Linked DNA regions of Homo sapiens: all the other regions are linked to region 6. The links come from fine-mapping of genetic effects on gene expression. A gene starts in region 6. Each other region holds a variant in brackets. All regions are shown on one strand. Distances are from middle to middle.

Region 1 (5,070 bases), 100 kb before region 6:
CTCATGCACACCACACCTATCACCTGGGCAGGGCAGAGGACCCACACACAGCACACCTGTCACCTGGGCAGGGCTGAGGACCCGCGCACACCATACCTGTCACCTGGACAGGGCTGAGGATCAGCACACAGCACACCTGTCACCTGGGCAGGGCTGAGGATCAGCACACAGCACACCTGTCACCTGGGCAGGGCTGAGGACCCACACGCATCACGCCTGACACCTGTGTATAGCTGAGGACGCGTGCACAGCACACCTGTCACCTGGGCAGGGTGAGGACCCACACACAGGACACCTGCCACCTGGACAGGGCTGAGGACCCACGTACACCACACCTGTCACCTGGGCACGGCTGAGGACCCGTGTACACCACACCTGTCACCTGGCTGGGTGAGGACCTGCACACAGCACACCTGTCACCTGGGCACGGCTGAGGACCCGCGCACACCACACCTATCACCTGGGCAGGGCTGAGGACCCACGTACACCACACCTGTCACCTGGGCACGGCTGAGGACCCGTGTACACCACACCTGTCACCTGGGTGGGTGAGGACCTGCACACAGCACAACTGTCACCTGGGCAGGGTGAGGACCCACACACAGCACAACTGTCACCTGGGCAGGGTGAGGACCCACACACAGCACACCTGTCACCTGGGCACGGCTGAGGACCCGCACACACCACACCTGTCACCTGGACAGGGCTGAGGATCAGCACACAGCACACCTGTCACCTGGGCAGGGCTGAGGACCCACACGCATCACGCCTGACACCTGTGTATAGCTGAGGACGCGTGCACAGCACACCTGTCACCTGGGCACGGCTGAGGACCCGCGCACACCACACCTATCACCTGGGCAGGGCTGAGGACCCACGTACACCACACCTGTCACCTGGGCACAGCTGAGGACCCGTGTACACCACACCTGTCACCTGGGTGGGTGAGGACCTGCACACAGCACAACTGTCACCTGGGCAGGGTGAGGACCCACACACAGCACACCTGTCACCTGGGCACGGCTGAGGACCCGCACACACCACACCTGTCACCTGGGCAGGGTGAGGACCCACACACAGCACACCTGTCACCTGGGCACGGCTGAGGACCCGCGCACACCACACCTGTCACCTGGACAGGGCTGAGGATCAGCACACAGCACACCTGTCACCTGGGCAGGGCTGAGGACCCGCACACACACCTGTCACCTGGGCAGGGTGAGGACCCACACACAGCACACCTGTCACCTGGGCAGGGCTGAGGACCTGCGCACACCACACCTGTCACCTGGACAGGGCTGAGGACCCACACGCATCACGCCTGACACCTGTGTATAGCTGAGGACGCGTGCACAGCACACCTGTCACCTGGACAGGGCTGAGGATCAGCACACAGCACACCTGTCACCTGGGCAGGGTGAGGACCCACACACAGCACACCTGTCACCTGGGCAGGGCTGAGGACCCACACACAGCACACCTGTCACCTGGGCAGGGCTGAGGACCCGCGCACACCACACCTGTCACCTGGGCAGGGCTGAGGACCCACACGCATCACGCCTGACACCTGTGTATAGCTGAGGACGCGTGCACAGCACACCTGTCACCTGGGCAGGGCTGAGAACCAGCACACAGCACGCCTGTCACCTGGGCAGGGCTGAGGACCAGCACACAGCACACCTGTCACCTGGGCAGGGCTGAGGACCCGTGCACACCACAACTGTCTCTTGGGCACAGCTGAAGACCAGCACACACCACACCTGTCACCTGGGCAGGGCTGAAGACCCACAGACACCACAACTGTCTCCTGGGCAGGGCTGAGGACCAGCATATGCCACACCTGTCACCTGGGCAGGAGGGGAGGGCCAGGGATGTGTTGGCAATGCTGGATTCTGGGCTGACCCATTCAGGTTTCTGACCCTCTCCTGCTTCCCCATTCACTGGAGCGGATCACACTGTCTCTTTTCCTCAGACCCCAGTGACGCGATGTTAATGAACAGAAGACCAGGGTGCACAGGGCAAGCACCTGTGTTAAAAGATACTGTATCCCAAAGCCACAGGGGACACACAAGGTTTTCATTCATCAGACCAGAATCCCTTAGAAACTGGACCATAGAAAAACAGGATTCATGGCCAGGCGCGGTGGCTCACGCCTGGAATCCCAGCACTCTGGGAGGCCAAGGCGGGCGGATCACCTGAGGTCGGGAGTTCAAGACCAGCCTGAGCAACATGAAGAAACCCCGTCTCTACTAAAAATACAAAAAATTAGCAGGGTATGGTGGCGCATGCCTGTAATCCCAGCTACTTGGGAGGCTGAGGTCAGAGAATCGCTTGAACCCGGGAGACAGAGGTTGTGGTGAGCCAAGATCGTGCCATTGCACTCCAGCCTGGGCAACAAGAACGAAACTCCGTCTCGAAACAAACAAACA[AACAG/G]GATTCACATAAAAGACTAACGGGAAGAGGCAGATATAACTCTTCATCCTTGAGTCTCAAAATTACCTGCAGCACATGTGAATAGTGCCCATGACCTGTGCGACAACTTAAAAGCCATAGTCCCTGTCCTCACAGGAGCCCTGAAGCGGAGTCGGGATGCTGCGGGAATCTCAGCCAGTCGGGAAAAAGGTACAAAGGGCGGATGCTTTTCCAGGCTTGGGCTACACACAAAGATACAGAGAGCAGTGCATGGCCAGTACCCGAACAACCAGAATCATCTGAGTAAGACACCTGGGGGATGAGGGGTCACCTAATTCAGCCTCTAATTCAGCCAACGCTGACATCTGCCCTTCCCCTCGCAGATCCATCCCCACACGTAGTCTAAGCCACCTGCTGCTACCAGTCCTCCTCTCTAAGCAAAACTTGACAAATCTAGTCTCTTATGACAAACAGCAGAAAGCCACACTGTAAGTCAAGCTAAATATCAACTGCAAATCTGGATTTTCTAATTGTTCTACAACAAAGTATTTTTTAATGTAAATACCAAGAGTGAAAAGTTTTTAACATCCCCTAAAGAGCACCTGATACTTCTACTGCAAATCGAGCTGTGCACCAAAGGTGAGGTTTCCAATTCTTACACAACGAACTCCAGAGATTTCTTCCAAATACCAAAAGTAAAGAGCTAACAAAGAGCTGATTATGTAAGAAAAAAGATGTCCTTTTTTATTCTTTGAATTTTATACCAGATGTTCCTATAATACCTCTTTTAAAGCATGTTTTAGGGGCAAAACTTTTTTCTTTTTTTTTTTTTTTGAGATGAAGTCTTGCTCTTGTCACCCAGGCTGGAGTGCAATGGCGTGATCTCGGCTCACTGCAACCTCCGCCTCCCGGGTTCAAGCGATTCTCCTTCTCAGCCTCGAGAGTAGCTGGGATTACAGGCGCCCGCCACCACGCCCAGCTAATTTCTGTATGTTTAGTAGAGACAGGGTTTTGCCATGTTGGCCAGACTGGTCTCGAACTCCTGACCTCAGGTGATCCACCCGCCTTGGCCTCCGGGATTACAGGCATGAGCCACCGTGCCCAGCAGGGGCAAAACTTTTAATTAACCTATAATTTTCTTTTTCTTTTTTTTTTTTTTTTTTTTTGAGACAGAGTCTCGCTCTGTCGCCCAGGCTGGAGTGCAGTGGCGTGATCTCTGCTCACTGCAAGCTCCGCCTCCCGAGTTCACGCCATTCTCCTAACTCAGCCTCCCCAGTAGCTGGGACTACAGGCGCCCACCACCATGCCTGGCTAATTTTTTGTATTTTTAGTGGAGAAGGGGTTTCACCCTCTTAGCCAGGATGGTCTCAATCTCCTGACCTTGTGATCCACCTGCCTCGGCCTCCCAAAGTGCTGGGATTACAGGCGTGAGCCACTGCGCCCGGCCCAACCTATAATTTTCTAATTTTTAATATCCCTTCAGAGTTTCTCTAACCTCATCCTATGTAGAAAAAAAAAATCCTGAAATATGAAAAGACTCTTGTAAAAACAAGCACGTCATCATAGATTTCTTCAACACTTAAACCTGAGGGGGCTAAACTGACAACCTTCTTAACCTCAAATGTAAAGTTGTTTCTTTATGAGGACAAAAGAAGGCCTGAGTCGCTGAATCCTGTTCCCAGAACTCACTCCTTCAAGCACTGAAGGAAACAGCAGTTTGTTGCTGCATCAGGTTCACCTCTTCAGGCCTGAACTTCACCATCCAGGTCTGTAAAAGGACACCTGGTGGTAGACCCTTAGAGGAGCTCATTGGTCCCCTCTTGGCATTAGCAGAGCCTCGTGACAGCATCACTCAAACGCCTCCATGGTGGGACGCACACAGTTCTCTTGGTCCCCAGCTCTCAATTTCAGGATTTCCCCATAAACTCACAGGACACAAACAGGCACCACAGAACGGCTTTCACAACCAAGGCACGTGAATACCGGGCAGTGACGTCCACAGCCACGTTCTCTGCACAGGGAGCTGACCAGGTCCAAGTGCCCGCACAGCCCAAGAGCGAGTTCAGATGCCCTGCATCTTTACCAATGGCAGGAGGAGCTTGGAGAGGCGAACGGGACCCCAGAAACAGCCCCACACGGGCTACATCCCGAAGTCTTACAGCAAAAGCATCCCTGTAATGTTTGATGAATTCATCATCTGCCTGCCTTCCCACTTACAAACTTTCATGACACTGGACAATCGTGTGTGACGACAGGATGTTCCGAGGTAGGGAGGGGAGAGGCAGAGCTCTGCCTGATCCCACCAAGGGTCATGCTGCCTGGGCAGGCAGGAAACTTGGCCGCAGGCTGAGATGCCAGTGCCAAGCCACACTCCCTCACCCAAGGGCCCTGCCAGCCCAGCTCTAGAACAACTTGAGCCCCTGCAGCTGGACTGACTCGTGACAAGGGTCTGTCCGACTCTAAGGAGGTGCCAAAGCACCTTCCAAGACTGAATCTGAGGACGGTTCCGAGCACCACCGGTACCTGCAACGGGAGCCCACAGATCTGCGGGTCAGAGCCACCCTGTTCAGGAACCAGAGGACAGCCTCCCTAGGCCCTGAGGCGGAGGGCCTGAGATGTTTCGAGGACAGTTCAGAAACTCAAAGAGTCTGTACGGAC
Region 2 (5,070 bases), 71 kb before region 6:
GTCCCTTCATCTGAGGGGATGGTCTGAGGCTCGAGGGGAGCGGCTGCAGGTCTGACGGGAGGGTCCGTGGGTCTGAGAGGAGGGTCTGACAGAAAGGTCTGTGGGTATGAAGGGAGGGCCTGAGGATAGTTTGAGGGGAGCATCTGAAGGAAGAGGAGGGTTTGAAGGGAGGGGAGGGTCTGTGGATCTATGGGAAGTGGCTGTGGGTTGGGGAGGGTCTGCGGGTCTGAGGGGAGGGTCTGAAGGTAGGGATAGTCCGTGGGTCTGTGGGGAAGGTCTGTGGGGTGGGGAGGTTATGGGTCTGAGGGGAAGGTCTCCGAGTCTGTGGGAAGGGTCTGTGGGTCTGAGGGGACGGCTTCGGGTCTGTGGATATGTTGGGGGGGTCTGTGGGAAGTGTCTCTCGGTCTGTGGAAAGGGTCTGTGGGGCCGAGGGAAGCACTTGTGGGTCTTTGCGGATGATCTGAGGGGTGGATCTCTCAGGCTCTGAGTTAACTGCAGACGTGGTAAGTGCTGCGGAGGAGGTGTTAGGAGCTACAAAAATGCCACAGAGAGAGACCTCGCAATGTTGTTGTCGGGAAAGTTGATCCAAGAAAGTGTCGTGGATTTAAGATCTCAGGGATGAGTGGAGAGAGACAGCTGGGGTCGTGTGGACCGGAGGGAATTGGCGAGAAGTTCTTTAAGTTTGATGGAGGACTCTGAAATTTATCTTCAGAGTGAGTGGGAGCTGAGGAAGAGTTTGGGGCAAGTGGATGGCTCTTTGTTGTTGTTGTTTTTAACTTTTTGTTTTGAATGAATTTGAGACTTACTAAAAAGTTGCAGAAATAGTACCCAGAGTTCCCACATAATCCTCCCTGGCTTCCCTCATATCCGTGTCCAGCATGGCCACGACACAGATATTAAACCCAGCACCCAGTGTGACACCGTGGCCCATGCCTGTAATCCCACAATTTTGGGAGAGCAAGGCAGGAGGATCACTTGAGCCCAGGAGTTCAAGACCAGCCTGGGCAACACAATGAGGTCTCATCTCTCCAAAAAATAAAATCAAATTACCCGGGTGTGGTGGTGTGCGCCTGTGGTCCCAGCTACTTGAGTGGGGAGGATCGCTTGAGCCCAGGAGCTGGAGGCTGCAGTGAGTCATGATTGTACCACTGCACTCCAGCCTGGGTGACAGAGCCAGACCCTGTGTCAGCCCTAACCATCCTTGTCCTGGGGCCTGGGCATGGATTTTGCTGTCTCGTGTTCTCAGGACTGTATGAAGTCAAGCCCATTTGGCAAGCATCCTGTGGAGGTAAGGCTGTCTCTCAGTGGCTCCTGAGCTGATGTGTCCAACTACAGGTCCAGGTGGTGTCTGCCGAGTCTCCTGGTCAAATTGCCGTCCTTCCTCTGTAGGGGATAATCGTCCTGGAGACACTGGGAGACCAAATCCTGATTCTCCTGGAACTTCTCTGATTTTGGCATCCATGGGGGTCTTGTCAGCGGCAATCAGTTCCGTGGACTTTGCCTCGTGGTGATTTTCTGTTTCCCCCTTTCCTCTGGCATTTATCCATCGAGGTTCTCCTGCAGGGAAGAGCAGTGGGTCCTTCTTCCCCGTTTGCGTGTTGACATGGTCAGTGACGACAGCAGTGTGAGCTTGCATGCATTTATTTTATTCTACAGTTTGCAATCAGCACGGCCATTGTGCATCTTGTTGCTCACACGACCCAAGGTTGGCCCCTATGTCATCTCAGGGAATGACATTGACAGATTTACAGTTTAAAGCCCCCGCTTGCAGTGTGGGAGTGGGGTGTAACTGGGCAGGGATGGACGCAGTGAGGTAAGGCCCAGACTTCCCATGGTTACAATGTCATCTCAGTGACTAATGAGGAGCCGAGAGCTTCCTCAGTATTGAAAGCCCTTCTTCGCTGACCTAGCCCTGGGTAGAATGTGGGTTTAAAAAGCCTAATGTGGTACATGCTTGGGTCCCTCTGATGTTCTAGAAACAAAACCTGCTTTCCTTGAGACTTGCTTTCTTGTATTTGCTTGAAGACAACGCGACCTCTCAGCGTGGCAATCCCAGAATCAGGTCACTGGACAACTTGTTAATTTTGAGCACGGTGACTGGGATTTCAAGGTAGAGACTTGGTCCACCCGCCGGCTTTCAAGAGTGAGGAGCATGGTGCTGCCTTCTAACTATGCTTTTTAACAGGATTCGGTTTGCAGTGCCACAAACAAAGTGAGCCACTGGGAGGCAGCAGAGGCCTTGGAGGGGAGGTGCATCTGGCAGCCACAGAGCTCATTGCGGGACCACCCACAGGCACGCGGAGCATCTTTGCCTTGTGGAGCCTGGCACCAGGACTGCCGGGAGGGGAAGAGGCTCAGCCCCCACACCCGGGGAACCTATGCCACACCGGGGCCCTCTCCAGCCTCACTGGCAGTGTCTCTGGGACCACTCCCCAGATTACTTGTCCTGGGGTCAGCTCGGGCAGGGAGGCAGAGTAGCCCTACAAGCCCTCTGCAAACACACACATGCTCTCTCCACAAACAGAGTAGAACCGCACCACATGGATTCTGCATAACACCACACTGGGGCCCTGGATGTTTCCCCCTCATCCACCTTGTTTTGAATGTAGAACGAAGTCCAAAGTTTTTCTTCTAACAGTTCCAGGCAGGCTGGCATATCGAATCAATCCAAACCCAGTCTGCCTGTCCTCAGATCCCCTCTGCACCACAAAGCCCAGGCAGTATGATCACCCTTTGCCAGAGGCCCTCACAGCTGGGCCTTCACCTGCGACCTGGGTTCCACACACTGCTTTATCTGCATGAAGCTGGGGGGCAGAATTGGCCAACGAGAGGTGCAGCCACAC[G/A]GGAGTGGCCTGGGCCTTCGGGAAAGCCTTTAGACATTGTGTGGACTGTAGAGAAGCTCCTGGGGCCCAGTGCCAGTGTTGCTCGTGCTTGGGCACCTCTCCTGCCGCATCATCCCTGGCAGTGACGTCCACCGGCTCTCAGCCCAGATGGGGAGACCATCGGTCTTTATCTCTGAGTAAAACTCAATCTGCTTCCACCTGCTGGTGGGGATTCTGTGGTCTGCAACTGAGCCTCTGAAACCGAGGGCAGGATAGGAGGGACGTGGAGTGGGCGCTACGTGGTGGGTGCTTGACACTCCTTCCTGGTTGTGTGACCGTGAGCCAGTGACAGCCTAAGCAGAGGGAGCTGTGATGAAGCTTGTAGCTGTAGCGCGCCTGGGCCCCAGCCTTGCAGCTCCAGGGGTGGAGCTCTTCCAGGAACAAACTCTTCTCTGCCACTCTGTGGACAGAAGGCCCTGTCCACGTAGGGGGCTCTCACTGCCATTCACATGCCTTGACCCTTCACTCCCTTCGTGAGATTCAGAGCAGCCCTTCTGAGAACAAAGCGCAGTGAACATCTCTGGAGACACCAAAGTCCCCTCGAGTGAGAAACAGACTCCTGAACGCAGGTTTTCAGGATGTGAACCCCGGCCCAGAGCCTTACCCATGGATGAGGTGCCCATGCAGTCCCCAGGGTGCCTTTGACCTCTTATTCTGTAACTTCACATTTCAATTAAAGTGTTGAGGGAAGATGGCCATGACCAACACCAACTCAAAGCTGTCCATCAATACAGTGAAGAAAACAGCCTCTCAAGTCAGCTTTCAGTGTGTGAAAGGTGGGCAGCCCTATTACAGGGCTTTCTCTGTGAATGTCACTGTCCTGTTGAGCAGCCTTGAGTGAACAACTGGACCTCCAGGGCCACCATTTCCTCCCTTGCAAACCGTCATGCTAGTCAGCCCCGGCGTCCAGGACCGACTCACAAGGCCACGTCTTGGTGAGCAGCGGGGTCTTGGCCGCCGTTCGGCTGGGTAGGAAGTGCTCTCTGGCTTCTGCAGCTGGCTCACTTTCTGTATGCCACCCACCCACAGGCCCGTGGGACCCGTCTGTCTGTCCTTGGGCTGTCTCCCTGTGCCCGGGATGTGGCAGCAGTGGCCAGTGTCCTGAGGCCCTGCCCTCTGTGAAGCTACCACGTCCTGGCAGCTGGGCCCTTCTCTTGCCCTCCGGTCCCAACTCTGAAGTCTGAGAAGCTTTGTCCAGCCCCTCCCAGCTTCTGCCTACATTGCATGCCTGCCTCCCCTTTCGCCCTCTCAGCAGAGTCTGCAAATGTTCCTGCTGCTTAGGCTTTTGTAAAACAAACACCAGGAACACAGGAAACTAGGTTTGTCCTGGGGTAGGGGCTGCCAAGAACACCCTGAGATGCTGGGGGAGGAAATGCCCATCTCAAAACCTGCGCAACCCCGTCCAGACCTGCGACCCTGTCCAGACCCACGACCCTGTCCAGACCTTCGCGACCCCGTCCAGACCTGTGCGACCCCATCCAGACCTGTGCAACCCCGTCCAGACCCGCGACCCCGTCCAGACCCGCGACCCGGTCCAAAGCTGTGCGACCCCATCCAGACCTGCGACCCCGTCCAGACCTGCGACCCCGTCCAGACCCGTGACCCCATCCAGACCCTCGACCCGGTCCAAAGCTGTGCGACCCCGTCCAGACCTGCGACCCCGTCCAGACCTGCGACCCCGTCCAGACCCGTGACCCCGTCCAGACCCGCGACCCCGTCCAGACCCTCGACCCGGTCCAAAGCTGTGCGACCCCGTCCAGACCTGCGACCCCGTCCAGACCTGCGACCCCGTCCAGACCCGTGACCCCATCCAGACCTGCGACCCCATCCAGACCCACGACCCTGTCCAGACCCGCGACCCCGTCCAGACCTGCGTGTGCTCAGGGGGCGCAAGCCAACACTGACACCTGAAGCGAGCATGGGCTTAGAGAGAAAGCCCCCCAGAAATGTGCTCTTTTCCCACGGGGTGCAGGTGACACCTGCTGGGACACATCGGCTTATGGACACATTGGCTCGTAGGCACGTCTCACCCCAGACCACTGAAGCAGCGGAGAGACTTCAGTGATAAATCACCCCCTTTATCAACCTTTAAATTTGAAACAGTGATGCCCCCCTTCACCCCACCCTTTTTTTTTTCTTTTTGAGATGGAGTCTCGCTCTGTCTCCCAGGCTGGAGTGCACTGCCGCA
Region 3 (5,070 bases), 40 kb before region 6:
TGTTCCCCTTGCTTTCCATGTGCAGCTTCCGATAATAGGGTCCAATGAGATACTTCTTTATAACAAGACATAAAAGAAAAACCGCCGCTAGTGAAAAAAGAATCTGACCAATCAAAACCAGGATTCGGAGAACTTCCACGACAATGCTGGGAAAGAAAAAAGAGACGTGATTTCACTTCCAAAACACAGTTCTCTAAAACTCAATAAAATAATCTTTCAGTTTTTTTCTTTAACATGCTACAAAATAAATTACCTGAATCATACACATCTTTATTTTCAAATACAAAAACACCTATGAATCATACTCATCTCAGAAATTAAGTTGTGTTGAGCCAAAGGTGGAAGCTGCATTGGTTTGCAGTCAATACTCTGGGGTGAATGCGTATTCTAGAATGTGAAAATTCTCGACTGACAGCGTTCCTATCTCAGCTGATGCCTGACGATAAAATTCCTCGCCAGGCCTCAGCCGCACATCAAAGTCTCCGCCAGGCAGCGGTTGCTCTCCGTGCCCCACCGCAGTCGCCTGATGGACGAACTCCAGCGACCGTCAGCAAGGCACTCCCGAGGCAGCCAGCTCTGAGGTCTGTGTCTGTGATTCAGACACAGAGAAAGTGATCCTTTGCTATGTTCTGTTTAGAATATACTACCCAGATCTCAGAATAGATCACCATCTCAGCCAGCGGACATCCACTATCTGCCGTCTTCACAAATATACCTATATTTAACCTTAGCCTTCCACCACTCAGGCCACAATTCTGGTGAAAGTTTCCTCGGTGGAGGAAACCTATGATTCCCAAGGGCGTCAGCCTCTGCAGTCTGGCTTAAAGCAGAAGTGCTGGAAACGCAAATCTCAAACTGCCATGATTCCTTCGGGGAACCACAGCAGAGCTGGGCTTGAAGCAGAGAGGGATGGAATGAAGGGATGGAATGAAGGGATGGAATGAAGGGATCAACAACGGCCACAGAAGCAGCTGTGAAGGAGCATCATTCAGAGCTCGCTGCAGGGCCCACGTCTGCAACTTCAGGAGGGAGGCAGCGTCCTTCAGAGCTCGCTGCAGGGCCCACGTCTGCGACTTCAGTAGGAGGGAGGCAGCGTCCTTCAGAGCTCGCTGCAGGGCCCACGTCTGCGACTTCAGGAGGGAGGCAGCGTCCTTCAGAGCTCGCTGCAGGGCCCACGTCTGCGACTTCAGGAGGGAGGCAGCGTCCTTCAGAGCTCGCTGCAGGGCCCACGTCTGCGACTTCAGGAGGGAGGCAGCGTCCTTCAGAGCTCGCTGCAGGGCCCACGTCTGCGACTTCAGTAGGAGGGAGGCAGCGTCCTTCAGAGCTCGCTGCAGGGCCCACGTCTGCGACTTCAGGAGGGAGGCAGCGTCCTTCAGAGCTCGCTGCAGGGCCCACGTCTGCGACTTAGAAGGAGGGAGGCAGCGTCCTTCAGAGCTCACTGCAGGGCCCAAGTCCGCGACTCAGAGAGAGGCCCCTTTCTGCAGCCCTGGCAGGAACGGAGACAGACTCACGGCCAAGCAGACCAGGCCTGCCGCACTCCTGACAGCTTTGCCACACTGCCAGGCCCACGTCTGGCCCTGGGCCCAGCACCGTGGTCCCTGCCTGGGCTGCCACCCCTTCCCCCACAGCTCCAGTGGCCTCCTCCTGATCCATCTGCTCTCCACACAGAGGCCCAGACAGCTCATCAGGACCCTCAATCAGCTCCTGGACGCTGGGATGGAACCCAGGCTTCTCTGCCCTGCCATGCCCTTCCACTGCCCCAGCCCACCCACACAGGCCACAGAGCCCCTTGCCTGGGAGGTCCCTACCCTAGACTCTTCTCCCAACAGGCTTAGCTGCATTCCTCAAATTCCAGCCACATCTCCAAAGGTAGAGCCTGTGCGTCTGGGGGCTCACGGCTGCTCACCAGCTCCTCTTCCTGTTTGAATCATTCGCAGGGCGGTTCCCTGCTGCGGATGTCTTGTCTACCACTCATTTGTGCATCATTCATTCATTGCCTCTCCAAAACACAACAGCAGCTCCCCACATGGGGAACGTCCTCTGCTGAGCTCACCCTTGCATCCTGAGCCCCTAGAGCACTGTGTGCAGAGCACTGTGTGCCACCTATTATGGCAGCCTGGTAAGAGCTGTACGATCCCCACTGCTACGTCACAGATGAGAACAGGGGCAGAGACCAGGTGATCTGCTCCAGGCCACACGCCCAGTGCAGAGAGCTGGGGACAACTCAGGTATCT[G/T]GCTCCAGGACCAAGCCCCTAACGGCTACACAAGCTCTCCACAGCCACCATCCCCAGGGTTTGGATTTAGGTCTAATTCCCAGAAGACTCCCACAGTGTCCATTAAATGCACAGTGATGAGGGCTCAGAAAGATGCCAATCAGAAGCCACAGTGCGCTCAACTCTGACCTCTTTGAAAGACAATCACCGTGACAAGTTTCTCAGGATTCCGGCTTGCCGCCGTGCCACCGGCAGGTCCACGTGCGTGCTGCTCTTGATCTGCATGTACGGGGCGCCGTGTCACCTGCAGGTCCACACGCGTGCTGCTCTTGATCTGCACGTACGGGGCGCCGTGCCACCTGCAGGTCCACACGCGTGTGCTGCTCTTGATCTGCATGTACGGGGTGCCGTGCCACCTGCAGGTCCACGCGTGTGCTGCTCTTGATCTGCACGTACGGGGCGCCGTGTCACCTGCAGGTCCACACGCATGCTGCTCTTGATCTGTATGTACAGGGCGCCGTGCCACCTGCAGGTCCACGCGTGTGCTGCTCTTGATCTGCACATACGGGGCGCCGTGTCCACGGCTGTTCTGACTGTCTCAGCGTGTTTGGACAAGCTTCCCATCAGCACATCTGACCTGCGGACAGGTGAGTGGACAAGCTTCCCATCAGCACGTCTGGCCCGCGGACAGGTGAGTGGACAAGCTTCCCATCAGCATGTCTGGCCAGCGGACAGGTGAGGAAGGGCTCCCTGGCGGGACGCACCATCATTTGCTCAGCCAGATGCAAGGGCTGTCCCGGTTCTCACACTGACTCCACGGCCATCCTGGTTCTTGGGCGCTGCGGTGACCAAGGAGCCTGTGGGTCCACTGATGGTGGCAGTGGGTGCTCACTAAGGGAGCCGGGTGCCTCCCACTATGACAGGTGCTGTCTGGTGGGCCGCCAGGAAGTTGCTCCAATTCCCATCCCAACAATGATGCCCAAGGTACCCCACTTCCCAACCTGGGCACCACCCAGCTTCTAATGGTGCCCAGTCTGATGGGCGGGTGGTGCCATCACCCTTCTTTGGTGTGAGGGTGGGTGTTTCCTACTTTACTCAAGTCTAATAGCTGCTTTGCTGCTGACCTGTTTTCAAACTCAGTTATTCATATTTTTCTTATTAAGGTATAGGAGACCTTTATAAAATAAGAAACATAAGCCTCTGTCTTTAATATGGGCATAAACATCTGTTTTGCTTTATTACAGCCTTCTGTGTTCTGTTCTTTACCTGTGAAATATTTTGAGGGAAAGAGTTCTTTCCTCTAGGAATGATCAAGGTTAATTCTGAATAAAGCTTAATAAGAAAGCAGAGTCTATTATGTTGCAACTAATTTTATTTCTTTGATATTTTAAATATAAATTTTCCCTCGTTATTAAAATTGAAAGGGAGGTTTTCCTAAATTACAGAAAAGTATATATAGTAGAAAAAACTTAGTACAAATCTACCAGTCTACTAGTAGAAAATCATTAACACCTTGTTATATATACATATATATATTTCTAGTCTCTATTCATGTTCTTCTATGTCTAATTAAAATATCGTATATATTTTTAACAGCTATGATATATAATTCACTTACCATACAACTTACCCATTTAAAGTATACAATTCAATGGTTTCCAGCATATTCACAAAATTACACAACTATTACCACAATCCATGTTAGAATACTTTCATCATCCCAAAAAGAAACCCTGTACCCATCAGCACTTCCTCCCCATCTCCCCCAACCTCCCCACCCTCCGGCAACCAGTAATTCATCCTGTCTGTACGGACTGGCCTAGTCTGGACGTTGGTATGAATGGAATCACACAGCGTGTGGACTTTTTGTCCGGTTCTTTCAGAAGCATCGTGCTTCATCTGTGCTATAGGATGAATCAATGTTCATTCTATATTATGGCTGAATAATATTCCTTTGCTGAATATAGTATGTTTTGTATATCTACCTGTTATCTAATTGACATTTGAGTTCTTAATACTTTTTAACTATACGAATAATGCTGCTTGAACATTCAGGTACAAGTTTTTCATTGTGGTGAAACTCTCATACAATAAAATGTACCATGTTAACCATTTCTGAGTGTGTAACTCTGTGGTATCAGGTGGATTCACACTGTTGTACCCCCATCACCACCGTGTATCAGTCTGAATGTGGATGTGTGTTTTTGTTTCTTGCGGGTAAATACCGAGGAGCGAACAGCTGGGTCAAATGGGAGCTCTGTGTTAGCGTCAGGAGGAACGTGGTCTACAATTCTGACTCTGTTTCTGTTTCTTTTGTTTTTTTTTTTTGAGATAGAGTCTTGCTCTGTCGCCCAAGCTGGAGTGCAGTGTCGTGATCTCAGCTCACTGCAACCTCTGCCTCCTGGGTTCAAGTGATTCTCCTGCCTCAGCCTCCCGAGTAGCTGGGAATACAGGCACGTGCCACCATGCCTGGCTAATTTTTTGTATTTTTAGTAGAGACGGGGTTTCACCGTGTTAGCCAGGATGGTCTCGATCTCCTGACCTCGTGATCCGCCCCCCTCAGCCTCCCAAAGCGCTAGGATGACAGGCGGAAGCCGCTGCGCCCGGCTCTCAAGCCATCTTCCTGCCTCAGCCTCCCAAAGCGCTGGGATGACAGCGTGAGCCGCTGCACCCGGCCCGATTCTGTTTCTTAAGTTTAACAGCATTACAGAGTATTTTTCCAAGTCATCAACTCTTTGTAAACATGAAGTGTCATGACTGAATTAGAACAATTTCGGTGGGATCAATACCTGTACTGCATTAATTTTTTGAATTGGAAAAAAGGGAAAAAAAAGCTTTAAAAGTGTTCTGATTAAGA
Region 4 (5,070 bases), 46 kb before region 6:
GTCTGGAGATTTCTCAAATAACTGCAAACAGAATTACCATTCGACCCAGCAATCCCACTGCTGAGTTTGCGCCCAAAGGAACATACGTCCTTCTGCCATAAAGACACACGCACTCACACGTTCATCACCGCGCCATTCACAGCAGCAAAGACACAGAATCGGCCCAGATTGTGAATTCCAAGGATCCCACTGTCCATCAACCGTGGACCAGATAAAGAAAATGTGGTACATATACATCAGGGAATGTTACGCAACCGTAACAGAATGAAATCACGTCCTTTGCAGCAACACGGATGCAGCTGGAGGCCGTTCTCCTCAGGGAATTAACACCAGAACAGAGCACCAGATACCACATGTTCTCACTTACAAGTGGGAGCTCAACACCGAGTACACGTGGACACAAAGACGGGAGCAAGAGACACTGGGGCCTGGGCAAGGTGGAGGCTGGGAGGAGGAGGGTGAGGATTAAAACACTGCCGAGGGTCCTATGCTTATTACCTGGGTGGCAAAATCATCTGTACACCAAAGCCCTGTGACACTCACTACCCGTGTCACAGACCCACACACGTACCCTGAGCCTAAAGGAAAAGCTGGACAGAAGAAACAGTATAATAAAATAAGATTTCTCTGCGCTCTATAAAGCAGAAAACAGTTTCTGGCTACTAGCAATCCAAATTGAAATATGCTGAATACACTTAATTTTTAAGATAACCATTTTTGCTATATAAATATATATGCACGTAAACATATTACAGAACCACTCTGCATACGTTTAACCAACACAATCATAATGTAAAGAAGGAAGATTACCTATGGAGGCGAAGAAAACGATGGCCAGGAAGTCGCGGATGGGTTCGATGGAGGTGGCGATCTCCTCGGTGACCACGGGGCCCTGAGAGGAGACGAGCGCTCCAGCCAGGAAACAGCCCAGCTCCATGGAGACGTCCAGCAGCTCCGTGACCTGAGAGAGGCAGGACGCAGCTTTACATGAGACCCCACAGTGCACCAGGGTCACCCCCATCCCAAGGCCACCCCGAGACCCAGCAGAGCCACCACGACAAAACACAGAAGCTGCACAAACAGAGCGTGTGTGTGTCTGGTCCTGGGTCGTCTGCTGGGTCTGAGAGGTGACATGTGGAGGCTGCTATTAGTTGAATTAACCTTACTGGGAGAAAAAAATTGTTTAAAAATATTTGAAACAAATATCCATACAGATTGCGCTGAAATTTTTGAATGAGAATATTTTCCAACTGTTTTAAATATTTGTGATACATTTTCTTGACCTTGAATCAGAATAGCCCGGTGGGAGTGTTAGAAACGCATTCCCACTACCAGCCTCAAAGCAGAGAGAAAGCGACAGGACGACAAGCAACAGCCCCGGGAGGGCACGAAGCCAGCGAGAAGCATCGGCGTGTCCACGGCGGCTGATCTGATACCCAGGTTTGCAGCCACATCAGCGCGCCGGCCGGACGGCCGCGACACGGGAGCCTCAGCGCAGCTCTGCGAAACGCAGGCTTATGGCAGCCTTCCGGATGACGCACGGCTGACACCGGCCAACCTGAAAGATGATTTTTATCTTGAGAAAACAAAACTGTAGACGATAGCAGCATCAGACGAAAAGAAAAGAAACTTGTAAAGAACTACGATTTATAATGGCAACAAAAACATCACATCCTGAGGATTCAACCCAAAAGAAGGCCTGCACCTGACACTGCAAGACACAGAGACCCACGAAAGACGGAAGACTCAGATGACAGCGCCAAGGGCTCAGCACGGCGGAGCGGCGGATGCTCCCTCCCCTGGCCAACAGACGCACAGGAGCGCCAAGAGACTCATGTGTGTGAAACTGACCAGCTGAATCTAAAAACTCGAGTGGAATTTGGAAAGAGCACGAATAGAGCCAAGACGACCCTAGCACAGAACAAAGCTGGACCCAAACACGGAGATCAAGCTGCGGTGCAGCCGAGGGCAGGTGGGCAGAGTCAGAGGGGCATGTGCACACACACACACACGCACATGTGCCACGGGTACACACACCACACACAAAGCAGACACACACGAACACATACCACACACACACCACACAAAGCACATATGTATGCATGCACACATGCCACACACACGTACACAAACCACACACCACATAAAGTACACATTCATGCATGTACACATGCCACACCAAAGCACACACATGCATGCACAAACACATACATGCACATGTAACATTCCACACAAGGCAAACGAATGCATGCACATGTACACACATCACATAAAGCATACCCCACACATGTACACATGCCACAAAGCACACACATGTACACACACCACAAAGCATACATGTACACACCACAAAGCACACACATGCATGCACACAGGTACACATGCCATGCACAAAGAACACACACATGCACATGCACGCACACACACACGGCTACTTGGTTTTTGACAGGGTGATGCTATAGAAGGGGGGAAGGAGGTCTTTTCAACGCATGGCATTCAGAAACGCA[T/C]GTGAATGAATGAATCCTCATCCACTCCCTCACTTCCAACACAACCGAAGCTCACCTCTGGGTGGACTGAAGATCTAATGAGAAAAGCACAGCAGAACGCTCACTGACAACAGTAAAGAGCATCTTCACGACCCAGGGGCAGGCGGATCTTTCACACAGAACACAGAAGATAGCCACGAAGAAAACAATTCATAAGCGATGATGCTGAAATTAAGAACTTCTGTTCATCAAAAGACACCGTTAAGAGAGTGAAAAGGCGAGTCACAAACTGCAAGACATTTGCAAAAACATATCTGACATGCTGGAATGGAATGTTTTTCAGCCATAAAAAGGGGCGAAGTGCTGGTGCGCACGGCGACGCGGCCAGGCCTGGAGGACGTGGTGCTAAGTGGAAGCCAGACACGGAAGCCGCCACGCGACACGGCCAGAAGCAGCGGCCCACGGGGCCAGGAAGTGGCTCCATGGCCTCGAGGAGCTGGGGGGAGAACTGAGCGCCATGGGGATTCCTTTGGGGAGGTGGATATAATTGGGTAGTGGTGATGGTGGCAAAACATTTTGAAGGCTGACTTTCAAATGATTAAAATGGCGAATTTTATGTGAATTTCATCTCAGTAAATAAATTTTTAAGAAGGACAAAAAAATCTGCCGGCATATAAAAAATAATTCCTACAAATGAGAAGAGAATCCTCACCCTACAGAATAACGACCTGGAGGCTTTAATAGGAACACCGCCAGGACAACACCCAGGTGCCACTGAGCTTTGGAAAGGGCTTGAGGGACCAGCCATCGGGAAGTGGACGCTGGAGCCCCCATCAGAGCCCTGAGATGCTCCACTCCTGGAGCAAGTGCAAGGAGGCTGTGGGGCACGGCGTGCTCACGGCACAGCAGCAGGACGGGCTGGCATGGCGACTTTGGGGAAACCCACGTCATGGCTACGGCTGAGCTCCTGTTTACTGTGGCCCTGCAACCCTACCTCCACAGGCACTCTACTAGGCTCATCAGCAGTGAAAGCACCTTCCAGAAACACGAGAATGGGCAGCAGCTCTAAATGGAAACGAATCCTAAGACTGAACAGTGGAAAGAATACATTGTGGCATCGGGTGCAGATGTGCAGAAGGCCCAGCACCCCAAGCAGCTGGCAGCAGGTGCACGGTGAGGGCTGCCCAGAGAGCGAGAAAACCTGAGAGCCGGGCAGAGTCACTGTAATGGAAGAAGCCACTGGGAGGGCAACACGGAAGTTGTCCAGATAAGACAATTCTGCTGGGAGTTATTTTCAAAGAGAAAAATACTCTGGAATGGATAAAACAATGTAAGAATTTAAATAAGTCACACTCTTGAAATAGTTAAAATCACTACAACCAGAAGCAAATCATAATTTCCTCCCAGGTTTACAAAACATTAGCAGGCAATTATATATAAGAAACAATTTTTGTTAATTTACTTTTTTTAAATGGAAACTTTTTTTTTTTTGAGGCAGTCTTGCTCTATCAACTCTGCCTCTGCCTCCTGGGTTCAAGTGATTCTCTTGCCTCAGCCTCCCAAGTGTCTGGGACTGCAGGCAGGCGCCACCATGCCCAGGTAATTTTTGTATTTTTGGTAGAGACGGGGTTTCACCATGTTGGCCAAGCTGGTCTCGAACTCCTGACCTCAGAAGATCTACCCACCTCGGCCTCCCAAAGTGCTGCGATTACAGGCGTGAGCCACCGCGCCCAGCCGGAAACTTTTTATTTTGAGATAATTATATATTAACCTGCAGTTTTAAGAGTAATACAAAGTCCTCATTACCCTTTAGTTTCCCCAATGGTAACATCTTGCCAAATTACAGCACAAGATCCCACTCAGGTGCTGATACGGACACAGCAAAGACAGCGAGTGCCATCCATCCCCAGTCCCTCCCCAGACCCCGACTCAGGTGCCGATATAGACACAGCAAACACAGCGAATGCCATCCCCATCCCCTCCCCAGACCCCCACTCAGGTGCCGATACAGACACAGCGAAGACAGCGAGTGCCATCCCCAGCCCCTCCCCAGACTGCCCATCCTCAATTCCTGGGAACCACGAGCCTTTCCTCAACTTCAGAATCTTCTCGCCTCATAAATGTGACATAAAAAGAACCACACAGTACGCAGCCTTTGGGGGCTGCCTGCCCACTCTGCGCAGTTCTCGGAGGTGTGTGCCGGTGGTTTTACTGCTGGGTGGCGTTCCGTGGTATGGACATAGCTCAGTTTGTTGAACATTTATTTACCCACTGAAGTACCTTTGGACTGTTTATGGCTAATACGAATAAAGCTGCTATAAACACCTGTGTACAGGCTACTGTGTGAACACGGCTTCATTTCTCTGGGATAAACAGCAGGAAGAGCACCTGCCGGGCTGAACAGTGACGGTGCACAGGTGCACTGTTGGGACAATGGTGACGGTGCCCAGGTGCGCTGTCAGGACTACTGAGACTCTATGGGGGTCCAGGAGCATCTCCCGCCACTCTCATGTAAAGACTGTCGTCTCGGTAAGCAGAAGCCCACTTTCCAAAATGAACTTTATTTTTTAACCTTTCACATGGC
Region 5 (5,070 bases), 63 kb before region 6:
ACCTACACACATCTGCACATACTCACCTGTGCACGCACGTCCACCCATGCACAACTGTACACACACACCTGTACACACACCTGTACACCCACACACCTACACATACCTGTGCACACACACCTGCACACACACACACCTGTGTAGGTAGAGGACCAGTGGTTTGTTTCCTGGAGAGCTCCCTTCCTCCAAGCTGACCAGCTGCTCTCTCCCCAGGTGGGCAGCTCTTGTCCCAGAACTCTGCTTGGAATCCCCTCAGGGTGGTGCTCTGTGTGCTGGACCCCAAGCCATCTTTCTTGGTTTTGAAACATTTTCTACAGCAGCTTCCAGAGGAGGGGCTCATGACTCTGAAGACATCTTTATTATGCTCTTCACGGCTCATTCTCCAGGTATTGGATCCTAGGTGGAATTCATTTTCCTTGGGAATCTCAACAGCTTCACTCTACTGCTTTCGTGTTGTTGAGAAGCCCAAGGCCTTTTTATCTCTGTCCCTTTGCCTGAGAGCTGATTTAGTTTCTTTCTGAAAGCTATTTAGAACTTTATTCAGTGTTCTGAAATTTTGTGATGATGTGATTTGTAGGGGACTTTTTTCATTTACTGTGTGGGTATCTGTGGTGCCCATATGACTGAGACAAAGAAATGGAAAATGGCAGGGAAAATGTAAGCAAATTAGAGGATCAAACCAGGCAGTCCATCATCCAGCCAAAAGAGGGTCCAGAAAAAGAGAACCAAAGACACCAGGGACAGAGCTGCCAGAAGCCACCTGGGAAAGAACCCAGGTCTCAGGAGCATTCGCCAAGCTCCTAGGTTCCACCGTCTCTTCCATCTCCCCTGAGCGTTTTTATCTTGGTAATTTTTTTTTTTTCATTTCAAAGAGATTTTTTTCTTGATCATTTTTCATGATATTCTGTTCTTATTTTATGGATGTACTATCCCTGACAGTGTATTAATGGTAAGTTTTTATTTTATTTATTTATTGTTCTTTTTTCTTGGAGACAGACTCTCGCTTTGTCGCCCAGGCTGGAGTGCAGTGGTGTGATCTCGCTCACTGCAACCTCTGTCTCCCAGGTTCAAGCGATTCTCATGCCTCAGCCTCCCGAGTAGCTGGGACTACAGTTGGGTGCCACTATGCCGGGCCACACACCTGGCTTTTTTTTTTTTTTTTTGTAGTTTTAGTAGAGACAGGGTTTCACCATGTGGCCCAGGCTGGTCTTGAACTCCTGAGCTCAGGCAATCCGCCCACCTCAGCCTCCCAATGTGCTAGGCGTGAGTCACTGCGCCTGGCCTAATGATAGGTTTTTAAAACATTTTCCATGACATTTTTTTCTGCTTCCTGAATTCTCTGTTTTCATTCTTCTGCTTTGGTCTTACCTTTAGGAAAGCCCTAGGTGGAGGTTGTTCACTCATATCCATATATATATATATATATATATATATACATTCTTTTTTGAGACAGGTCTCACTCTGTTGCTCAGGTTGGAGTGCGGTGGCATGATGATGGCTCACTGTAGCCTCGATTTTCCGGGCTCAGGCCATCCTCCCACCTCCTGAGTAGCTGAGACTACCTGAGCACCACCACACCCACCTAATTTTTGTGTTTTTCATAGAAACAAGGTCTCATCATGTTGCCCAGCCTGGTCTCAAACTCCTGGGCTCAAGCGATACATCTGCCTGAGCCTCCAAAAGCACTGGGACTTCAGAGGCATGAGCCTGGGGAGCAGCAAGCCTTGTTCATTCACATGGAAGAGTTAAGATGCTAAAATGCTCACTGGAAGTTCTGTGAAAGGGTGGGTTGTCTCCGGGGGTGTCATTCCCCAAGGTGAGCTGATGTCAGGTCTCCTGTCTTGGCTCACCCGGAGCGTCTAGAGGACAGTCCTGCAGCCCCTTGCCTTGTGGAAGTTCATGAGGTAAAGTCACAGTTCTGGGAGGAAGCCACACCTCTCTGTCCCAACCCCCTGGATTATAGGTGAAAATAAATTTTAACTTCTGATAATCTGATGCCCAAATTCTTGATGACTTTAGGGAGCCCAGTGAGTCTCCTCTTCTTTCCTGAAAAGCCCTAGCTCTTCACCATGTTTTCACCACTCACTTTTGCCCAGCTCATGCTCAGGGGTTCGCTTCTTCATGCTCAACTGGTAAAAATCACAGGTGGCCCGATTTCATCATACCTTTTCAAAGCGTTGACGACGCCAGGCACGGTGGCTCATGCCTGTAATCCCAGCACTTTGGGAGGCCGAGGCGGGCAGATCACCTGAGGTCAGGAGTTCAAGACCTGCCTGGCCAACATGGTGAAACCCCGTCTCTACAAAAATACAAAAAGTAGCCGGGTATGATGGTGGTAGCCTGTAATCCCAGCTACTTTGGAGGCTGAGGCAGGAGAATCGCTTGATCCCGGGAGGCGGAGGTTGCAGTGAGCCGAGATCGCACCATCACATTCCAGCCTGGGTGACTGAGCGAGACCCCATCTCAAAAAAACGAACAAACAACAACAAAAAA[C/AC]CAAAGTGTTGACGATGACCGATCGATTGATTGGAAAGAGGAAACCCAAGCCCAATGGCTTTGTTCTTTTTTATTTTACTTTTGTTTTCTTTTCTACAGGAAGGAGGCTTTGTTCTTGCAAATGTAGGGGGAGCATTCCGGCCCAGGGGAAGCTCAGTGAGTAGCGGGTGTGGATTTGCCCTGCCGGACTTGGATGCATGGCGTGGCACAATTGTTTATTCTCCTTAATTAAATTTTGGCTGTGAGTTCCCATCTACCTGGCCAGAAATTTAACCCCAATCATTTTTATGGGTGTCTCTCCTGCTCTCAGAATCAAACCAGAACATTCTGGAGAGAACCTCCAGTCTTCAGGCCCCTGTGGGGGAACCTAGGTGGTGTGGGGCCAGGTGTCCACACCCCAGTGCAGAAACGGATGTCGGTTCCCCTTCCATGTCCCATGGGAACCTCTGGCACAGCTCCCTGGCAGTGGGTCAGGGTCCTCTCCCCAGGCCCTCATGACGCCCAGAGGACCCGCCCCTCACTGAGAAGCCCCACCCTCGGCCGACCCCTCAATCCTTTGAACACTCCATCTCTTTTGCTACTTAAACCAAAGCCAAAAAGACGCCCCATCACCCTCCCCCGGGCGAGGGAAGGCAGAGGTCACAGGACACAAACCTGTCGCTGCTCTCAGGAGAAGCATCCTCCTTCCTTCTGGAAGGGATTGGAAAATGAGACCAGCCTCTCTGTCCAGTCCCCTGGCAGTGGGTTCAGCTTTCCATGGCCAGCCTGAGAGCTTCCAGGTGACTTGCTGGAGGGGGAGGAGCCCAGAGGTTTCCCTGCTGAGCTGTGAAAGGGCTTCCTGAGGGCGCTGAGAGATTGAGCAAAAGGCAGACAGGGAGGAAGGGGAAACACTGGGTGCCCAGGGGGATAGCATCTGTACATCTCAGGCCCTGGAGGGCTGGGCCTCACGGTGACATGAGCATGTGTGGCTGCAACCCCGGAGTCCTGGACGGAGGTGAAGGCACCCAGGATGAAAGGACTCAGGTGGGGTGGGCTTCGCACGGACCCCTAAACTCCAGAAGATTAGCAGGGACATAGGCAAGGCACTGGAATCACACAGGAGAAGAGTCCCTGGGAAGCTGGCAGCAGCAGTGTTATTTGAAGGACACCACAGTCATGGTGTGAGCTCTGCACTGGAGGAGCGCCCCGTCCCGGGCACAGGCCGTGCTGAAGAATGAGGAGCATCACAGACTCGGGGACTCAGGCATGTTTGTCTGTTCTCACGCCTTCCCCAAGACTGGGTAATTTATAAAGGAAACAGGTTTAATTGACTTGCAGTTCTCCATGGCTGGGGAGACCTCAGGAAACACAATCACGGCAGAAGGGGAAGCAGACACATCCTTATTCACAAGGCAGCAGGATGGAGAAGCGAGAGCGCGAGAACAAACTGCCACTTTTAAAACCGTCAGACCTTGTGAGAACTCACTATCATGAGAACAGCCTGGGGGACATCTGCCCCCATGATCCAATCACCTCCCTCGGTCAACCCATGACGATTACAATTCAAAATGAGATTTGGGTGGGGACACAGCCAAACCATATCATCAGGGAAGTATGGGGTGGGGAAGCCAGGAGAGGAGAAGGCAGCAGGGAGGAACAGGGAGACTCACGCGGCCCACCAGGAACTCAGGGACGCGGCTCCAGGCCACGGCCATGTCCTTGCGGTGCACTGCAGGGCACCAAGGGTGGGCACTGCCTAGTCCTGTGGGGATGAGCACGTGGTTACAGGAATGGGCTGAACTGAAGGAATTATAAAGAAAACCAAAATGGGTTTCAAAATTTTTTCTTTAAAATATCTCCATGCAGTTTTTATAAGTTCCCATGACATTAATAAAAGTATTGTAAGTTTCATTCATACAAAAAATACATATGAACTGCCTATTATGTATTATGTACCAGTGTTAGGATTTTTTTATCCAAATATTTTTCCCAGTTTTGCTTGGCTTTCAAATTTGTTCACGATGCTTTCTGATATGCTGAAATTTTACATTTTCATGTGAAATAGAATTTTCAAATAGTACAATTTCTTTCATTGTTCAATATCCCAAGAACCTTTAAGTATCCTGTTTATAAATATTCAATTGACCCATGTTTACGGTCTAGCCTCGCAGTGCTGCCGTGTGGGCCTGTGGGTCTCCCCCCAAGCTCTTACTTTCCCGGGGCCTGTCCGAGTTGAGCTGGGTGCTGTCCGAGTCGAGCTGGGTGTTGTTGGGTAATACAGCTCTGCATGGGCAGACGGGAGGCAGCTTTTGGGCAGCGGGGAAAGGACACAGAAGCAGAAATATCAAAGAAGAAATAAAACTGGCCTTGCAGACACAGAGGCCTCGCTGGTTGAGAATGGCTGGTTTTGGGGGGAGTGTGAAGGCCGTGTAAGCTCATGGCTGGAGCTCGAGACAGGAGACTGGACCACCCAGGTCAGTGCTCTGGGGACACATGGCCCAGGCACTCCCTGCTGCCAGCTGTTGTTCAGGTTGTTATCGAGGCCGCCAACACCCCCTCAGCCTCAAGCATTCAGGTTGGAAGCTCACTTCCATAAGC
Region 6 (5,070 bases):
CAAACAGGAGAACTAAAAAAGCCTGGAGGCCAGATGACTCGGTGAAGGCTCAGCGACTGTCTGCACCCCAGCAGGTCCTGAAGACAGTACTGTGTTAGACAACAGTACTGATCAGAATTACAAGCAAAAGTCACCAAGAAAAGACTATATTCTGGTTAGAAAGTGTTCAATTCAAAACATTCTTGGAGACTGACTCCCAAAAGGAGAAGCACACTCCACAGAGAATTCACTTACCTAGAACAGGTAACTTCCTAACAAGATAGGATAAATGATAATGTGCTGTTCCAATCACTCAATTTTATGTTAGTTTCAATACAACTTTAAGTACACGTGTACAACTTTAAGTACACATTTACCACCTTAAAAACAAACAATGAGGCAATCACTTAGTCATGCCTAGCCATATAGCTGAGCTGTTATTTTAATGACTCACTCAACTGCTAAGCTTCTCTCGGTTGGTCCAACGGAGCTAAATAAATCAACAGCTACTTCACAAGTGAACTTTTAGTATTTTCCAGAACCAAGACAGAAATCTGAGATGCTTTGCTTACACTTCCCAGTTTCCCCAAAAGATCCCAAAAAGTGATTCTTTGATGGATTTTATGCTTCAGAAAAATAAGTTTCAACACAGCTCATGTGTGAATGACACCTCTATGTTCATTTCTGGTTCCTTCCTCAATCAGGTTCCTAAAATTAGTTGTCCCTCTAAGGGAGCTATAATTTTTATGAGAAACCTTTGAGGATTTTAGTTGTAGTTATACTAAAATTTCCCACTGAAACATACTCATAACATGAAACTGAAATTATTTATGGACCCTTAAAATACAAATCACCTTTATTCAAACTCATTTCATTTTATCTTCAAACTTGCCTCCAAAATCCTACTGACTACTAAATTGTAGCATGTTTTTTGAGCAAATTAGTAAACATCTTTAGCTGTTCTAGTTATTAAAAAGACACTTTGGATTCCTGTAATGTGTTTTTTTTGTTGTTGTTGCTGTTTGAGACGGAGTTTTGCTCTTGTCACCCAGGCTGGAGTGCAGTGTTGTGATCTCAGCTCACTGCAACCTTTGCCTCCCGGGTTCAAGCAATTCTCCTGCCTCAGCCTCCCAAGTAGCTGGAATTACAGGCGCTCGCCACCACACCCAGCTAATTTTTGTATTTTTAGTAGAGACGGTGTTTTGCCATGTTGGCCAGGCTGGTCTCAAACTCCTGACCTCAGGTGATCCACCCACCTCAGCCTCCCAAAGTGCTGGGATTACTTTTTAAATAATGAATTCTTAGAATTTCTGCATCTTGAGCAATTGATACACATAACAATGCGGATGTATCTCAAGGCTGAGTGAAAAAAAATCTCAATTTTATTGAGAAGACACACAGGTGTAGATTCACACTCACTAGTGCATGTATAGTTGGTGCAATCTCAACAGGTCAGGGGATTTGATCAAAGAAAATTCCCCACATATACTATGGTTTTGCAAGGTGCTACCATTGGAGAAAACAGGGCAAAGGCACTCTGTAGGATTTCTCTGTATTACTCCTTACAACTTCATGTGATCTACAACCATCTCAAAATAAAAAGGTTTTCAAATTCTACCTAAGACCAGGTGCGGTGGTTAATGCCACTGCTGTATTACGACACAATTATCTGTATTCCCAGCGCTCTGGGAGGCTGAGGTGGGCGAACTGCTTGAGGTCAGGAGTTGGAGATCATCCTGGGCAACACAGCAAGACCCTGTCTCTATTAAAAATGAAATAATTAGCCGGGCGTGATGCTCCCTGTGGCCCCAGCTCCTGGGGAGGCTGAGGCGGGAGAATCGCTTGAGCCTTGACCAGCCACTGCACTCCAGCCTGGGCGACAGCAAAACTCTGTCTCAACAACCACAAAAAAGCTTTAGAATATTTAAGTCAAGCCTGTAGGAGAAAAAAACTACAAATATTTCACAAGTAATCCAATCATTAAGACACTCCTTTTGAAAAAGCCGGTAAATAAGATAAATTTGGAAGACAGAATAATCAGAAAAACAGGCAGTGAATAGGGACCCGATACGCAGCGGTCTTGCTTCCCCCGCGCAGGCGTCCACACCCTGGGTCATGGACACCGTGAGGAGCCGTTAGGAGTCACAGGAGGGGGGCCAGGGACAGGGCTGCATCTCTGCGGCCGGCCCTGGAGGCCCCGAGTCCACCCGGGCGGCCAGGGTGGGAACGCAGGTTCCATTCCAGGTTAGAACGTGGGCCTCAGCGAAGAGCGCCTAGGCAAGGCCTGGAGGAGCGGGACCCCAGGCCACACAGACCACCCGACCCCGGGAGACAATACCTGCAAGAAAAGGGGAGCCCCGAGGAGAGAGAGAGGGGAGGTGAGCCCCAGGGAGGGAGAGAGAGGAGGGGAGCCCCAGGGAGGGAGGGAAGGAAGGAAGGGGACCCCTGGGAAGGGAAGAAGGGAATGGGAGCCCCGGGGAGGGAGAGAGGGGAGCCCCAGGGAGGGAGGGAAGGAAGGAAGGGGACCCTTGGGAAGGGAAGAAGGGAAGGTGAGCCCCGGGGAGGGAGAGAGGGGAGGGGAGCCCCAGGGAGGGAGGGAAGGAAGGGGACCCCGGGAAAGAGCCCCGGATGGACGGGCCTGGTGCTCACCGGGACGCAGGGATCCGCGCCCGCCCGTCCGGCCCGAGCATCACCGTTCCGCGGCCTGGGCCGGGCTCTGAGGCGCCAGGACCCGAGGGGCGGAGGGGGACGCTGTCTCCCGCCTCGGAGCGCAGCGCCGGAGGGCTTCCTTGCATCCCTTCCCAGGCGGGACCAGGGAGGCCGGGAGGCCGGGAGTCCGGGAGGGAGCGGCCGCCGCCCTGCCCAGCACCGCCCCCGCTCAGCCAAGCCGACCCGGACTCCCGCCCAGCCGCAGTCACTGCCCCCTTTAAGAGGCGGGGCGTGGGCGGGTCCCGTCGGCCGCGGGCGGCGAGCACTTCCTGGCCGGCGTGGGGCCTGGCAGCCGCAGGCTGGCGTTGGACCCCGCAGGGGCGAGCCAAGGCCCTCGCAGAGGGCTGGACGCGCAGGGGCTGTGGGGCGCGAGCTCCCGTGGGCCCCCGGGCGGCGCTGAGCATGCCGGGAGTGGGAGTCCCCGCGGCCGGCTCCCGGCACTGCCCCGGAGCCGAGGGCCGCGGCCGTCCGAGGACGAGGGCGGAGCCGCCGCCGCGCCTGCGCAGAAGGCCGGGGCCGGCCAGAAGCGGGCGGCGCGGGGGAGATGGTAGGTGGCCCGGCGTCGCCTCTGCCCGTCGGGGTCGGGGTCGGGGTCGGGCCCCAAGGTCGGCGCAGGCGGCGCGCTGGATGTGGGAGGCCGAGCCCAGCGAGCTGCGCGGGGCGTTCCGCGTGGATCCGAGGGAGGAACGCGCCGCGGGCCCGCGAGCCGGAGCGGTGGCGTCGGAGGCGCGGGACCGCGGGGAGCGCGGGTTTGACCCGGAGCCGCGAGGGACGACCGGGAGTGAGCGGAGGGCGGGGGCCGGGAGGAACTGTAGGGGCCTTGGGGCAGGGGCCGGGGCCGAGCGGGAACCCAGGCCGGGGGCTTCCCAGGGCGGCTTCGAAACGGGCAGTCGAGGCGGGCGAGGGCTCGGCTGCTCCTGCGGGCGTCTGTGCAGATGCTGAGGCTGTTGACCAAAACAGCGCAAGGAAGGAATCCGCGAGAAGCTCAGATTCGCGGGGGAGGCCCTGCTGCCGGGAGGGGAGGGAGAGGCACAGCGGGGCCCTAGCGCGGGCTCTAGCCGGGAGCTGTAGCGTGGCTGTAGGTGTGCATCTGTGGAGCTGGTAGAGTTCCGCAGCGCAGGAGGGAGGCTGCTGGAGGTGCACATCAGTTACTTTGAAATGTGGTGGAAATGGTGATGGATGGGATTTATTCAGTCCACATCGGTTCAGAGGCCAGCAAGGTGCTGCTGGGTGTGACTGGTGCTGGGCCAGGCATGATCTTGGCGTTGAGGGAGTTGATGCCCCAGCAGGGGAGACAGGCACCAGATGCACAATTGTTTGACCACAGTTGGGACAAAGGCTAAGGCACGGGTTCCAGGAACTTGTAGGATGCGGCTGTGGGAGTGGTGTCAGATGCTGAGGGTGTGAGTTGAACTGTGGAGAATTTCTCTGGAAATTAGCCAGAGAAAAAGTGAGGTTCCGGGGCAGCCAGCCGTGTGCGGCTCCAGGCAGAAGAAACAGAATGCACAGACCCTTAGTGGTAGGCGATGATGACGTATAGGAGCTGAAAGATTGTCCTGGCTAAGGCACAGAGAGCCACCGGAGAAGGGACACGGTAACGTGTAGAGGGGAGTGGAGGGTGAGGACAAGCTTCAGGATGGGAGAAGAGCCACAAAGGAGACTGAGAGGGGGCTGGTAGGAGAAACCAGGACACTAGAATGTGTCGAAACCAAGAGGATGGAGTTTAAAGGAGGAGGGAGCCATCAGCAGTGCTGAACAAAAGAGCAGCTGAAAAGATCCCACTGACCGCAGCAGCCGAGCTTTTGTGACCTTTAGGGGTCACTGCGGAGGCCGGGCTGGAGCCAGGTAGCCTGAGTTAGGATGCACACCTGGGCAGGTAGAGATAGCTTGCTCCAGCTTTTAGGAGGACAGGGGCAGAGTGGACAGGAACTTAGTTTGGGGAAAACTTGAACATGTTCAGGATGCTGGAGAGGAGCGTTCCACTGCTGCCGAGGTTGGAGATCCAAGAGCAGGGATGAATTTAACTCCCCCTCCCTCTAGCGTGCTGTATACCGAAACAGAGTGAAAGTGATCCATAAACTTACGTAGTTTATTCGATCAACATGATTGGCCCGCCAGCCCCGGGTAAGTTGACCCTAAGGACATTTTAAGAGTAATTTCTTTCCATTTTACATATGGGTATCCTTGGTGCCAGATTATATGAGTCGTATTTCACAAGGTCACAATTAAAGTGTTTGAGACTTTTTTATAGTTTAGAGATTTTATTTGCTGTTTCCACTGGATTGTCCAGATTTTTATTTCAAGAATTGTGTACATTTTAACAGAAATAATGAAACCTAGAAAATGCCTTCCCCCCACCCCATGTACACACTTTAAAAGCTG

Which allele goes with the higher level. Alleles are on the strand shown, and positions count from the first base shown. SD is a standard deviation of normalised expression in the study named. Not every link is listed here.
With allele G in place of A in region 2, the expression in cerebellum of the gene that starts at base 2,881 in region 6 is higher (large effect, 1.0 SD a copy in GTEx).
In carriers of allele C in region 4, the expression in skeletal muscle of the gene that starts at base 2,881 in region 6 tends to be higher than with T alone (large effect, 0.83 SD a copy in GTEx).
As copies of C replace AC in region 5, the expression in cerebellar hemisphere of the gene that starts at base 2,881 in region 6 goes up (moderate effect, 0.63 SD a copy in GTEx).

What was found. PIP is the estimated chance that this variant, and not a neighbour inherited with it, causes the effect.
Region 1: its variant is fine-mapped to the expression of SLC9D1 in cerebellar hemisphere (GTEx, PIP 0.94).
Region 2: its variant is fine-mapped to the expression of SLC9D1 in cerebellum (GTEx, PIP above 0.99).
Region 3: its variant is fine-mapped to the expression of SLC9D1 in whole blood (INTERVAL, PIP above 0.99).
Region 4: its variant is fine-mapped to the expression of SLC9D1 in skeletal muscle (GTEx, PIP above 0.99). The same link has a PIP of 0.9 or more in atrial appendage and left ventricle.
Region 5: its variant is fine-mapped to the expression of SLC9D1 in cerebellar hemisphere (GTEx, PIP above 0.99).

The regions. Positions count from the first base shown.
Region 1 is chr13:113,589,518-113,594,587 of GRCh38, reverse strand. All of the region lies in intron 2 of TFDP1 (transcription factor Dp-1), which reads right to left. Among named protein-coding and RNA genes, the nearest start is that of TFDP1, 7.3 kb to the right of the region's middle. The variant AACAG/G (reference allele first, on the strand shown) is at 2,430.
Region 2 is chr13:113,559,769-113,564,838 of GRCh38, reverse strand. No RefSeq gene overlaps it. Among named protein-coding and RNA genes, the nearest start is that of TFDP1, 22 kb to the left of the region's middle. The variant G/A (reference allele first, on the strand shown) is at 2,844.
Region 3 is chr13:113,529,121-113,534,190 of GRCh38, reverse strand. It overlaps SLC9D1 (solute carrier family 9 member D1), which reads right to left. Exons shown (of 13, transcript NM_017905.6): 9 at 1-146. Among named protein-coding and RNA genes, the nearest start is that of SLC9D1, 41 kb to the right of the region's middle. The variant G/T (reference allele first, on the strand shown) is at 2,235.
Region 4 is chr13:113,535,248-113,540,317 of GRCh38, reverse strand. It overlaps SLC9D1 (solute carrier family 9 member D1), which reads right to left. Exons shown (of 13, transcript NM_017905.6): 10 at 811-961. Among named protein-coding and RNA genes, the nearest start is that of SLC9D1, 47 kb to the right of the region's middle. RefSeq lists a silencer at 1,680-1,868. The variant T/C (reference allele first, on the strand shown) is at 2,508.
Region 5 is chr13:113,552,071-113,557,140 of GRCh38, reverse strand. No RefSeq gene overlaps it. Among named protein-coding and RNA genes, the nearest start is that of TFDP1, 30 kb to the left of the region's middle. RefSeq lists an enhancer at 4,906-5,070. The variant C/AC (reference allele first, on the strand shown) is at 2,494.
Region 6 is chr13:113,488,832-113,493,901 of GRCh38, reverse strand. It overlaps SLC9D1 (solute carrier family 9 member D1), which reads right to left and starts at 2,881. Exons shown (of 13, transcript NM_017905.6): 1 at 2,629-2,881. It overlaps DCUN1D2 (defective in cullin neddylation 1 domain containing 2), which reads left to right and starts at 3,191. Exons shown (of 7, transcript NM_001014283.2): 1 at 3,191-3,235. The coding sequence starts at 3,233. RefSeq lists a silencer at 2,571-3,490 and an enhancer at 3,721-4,020.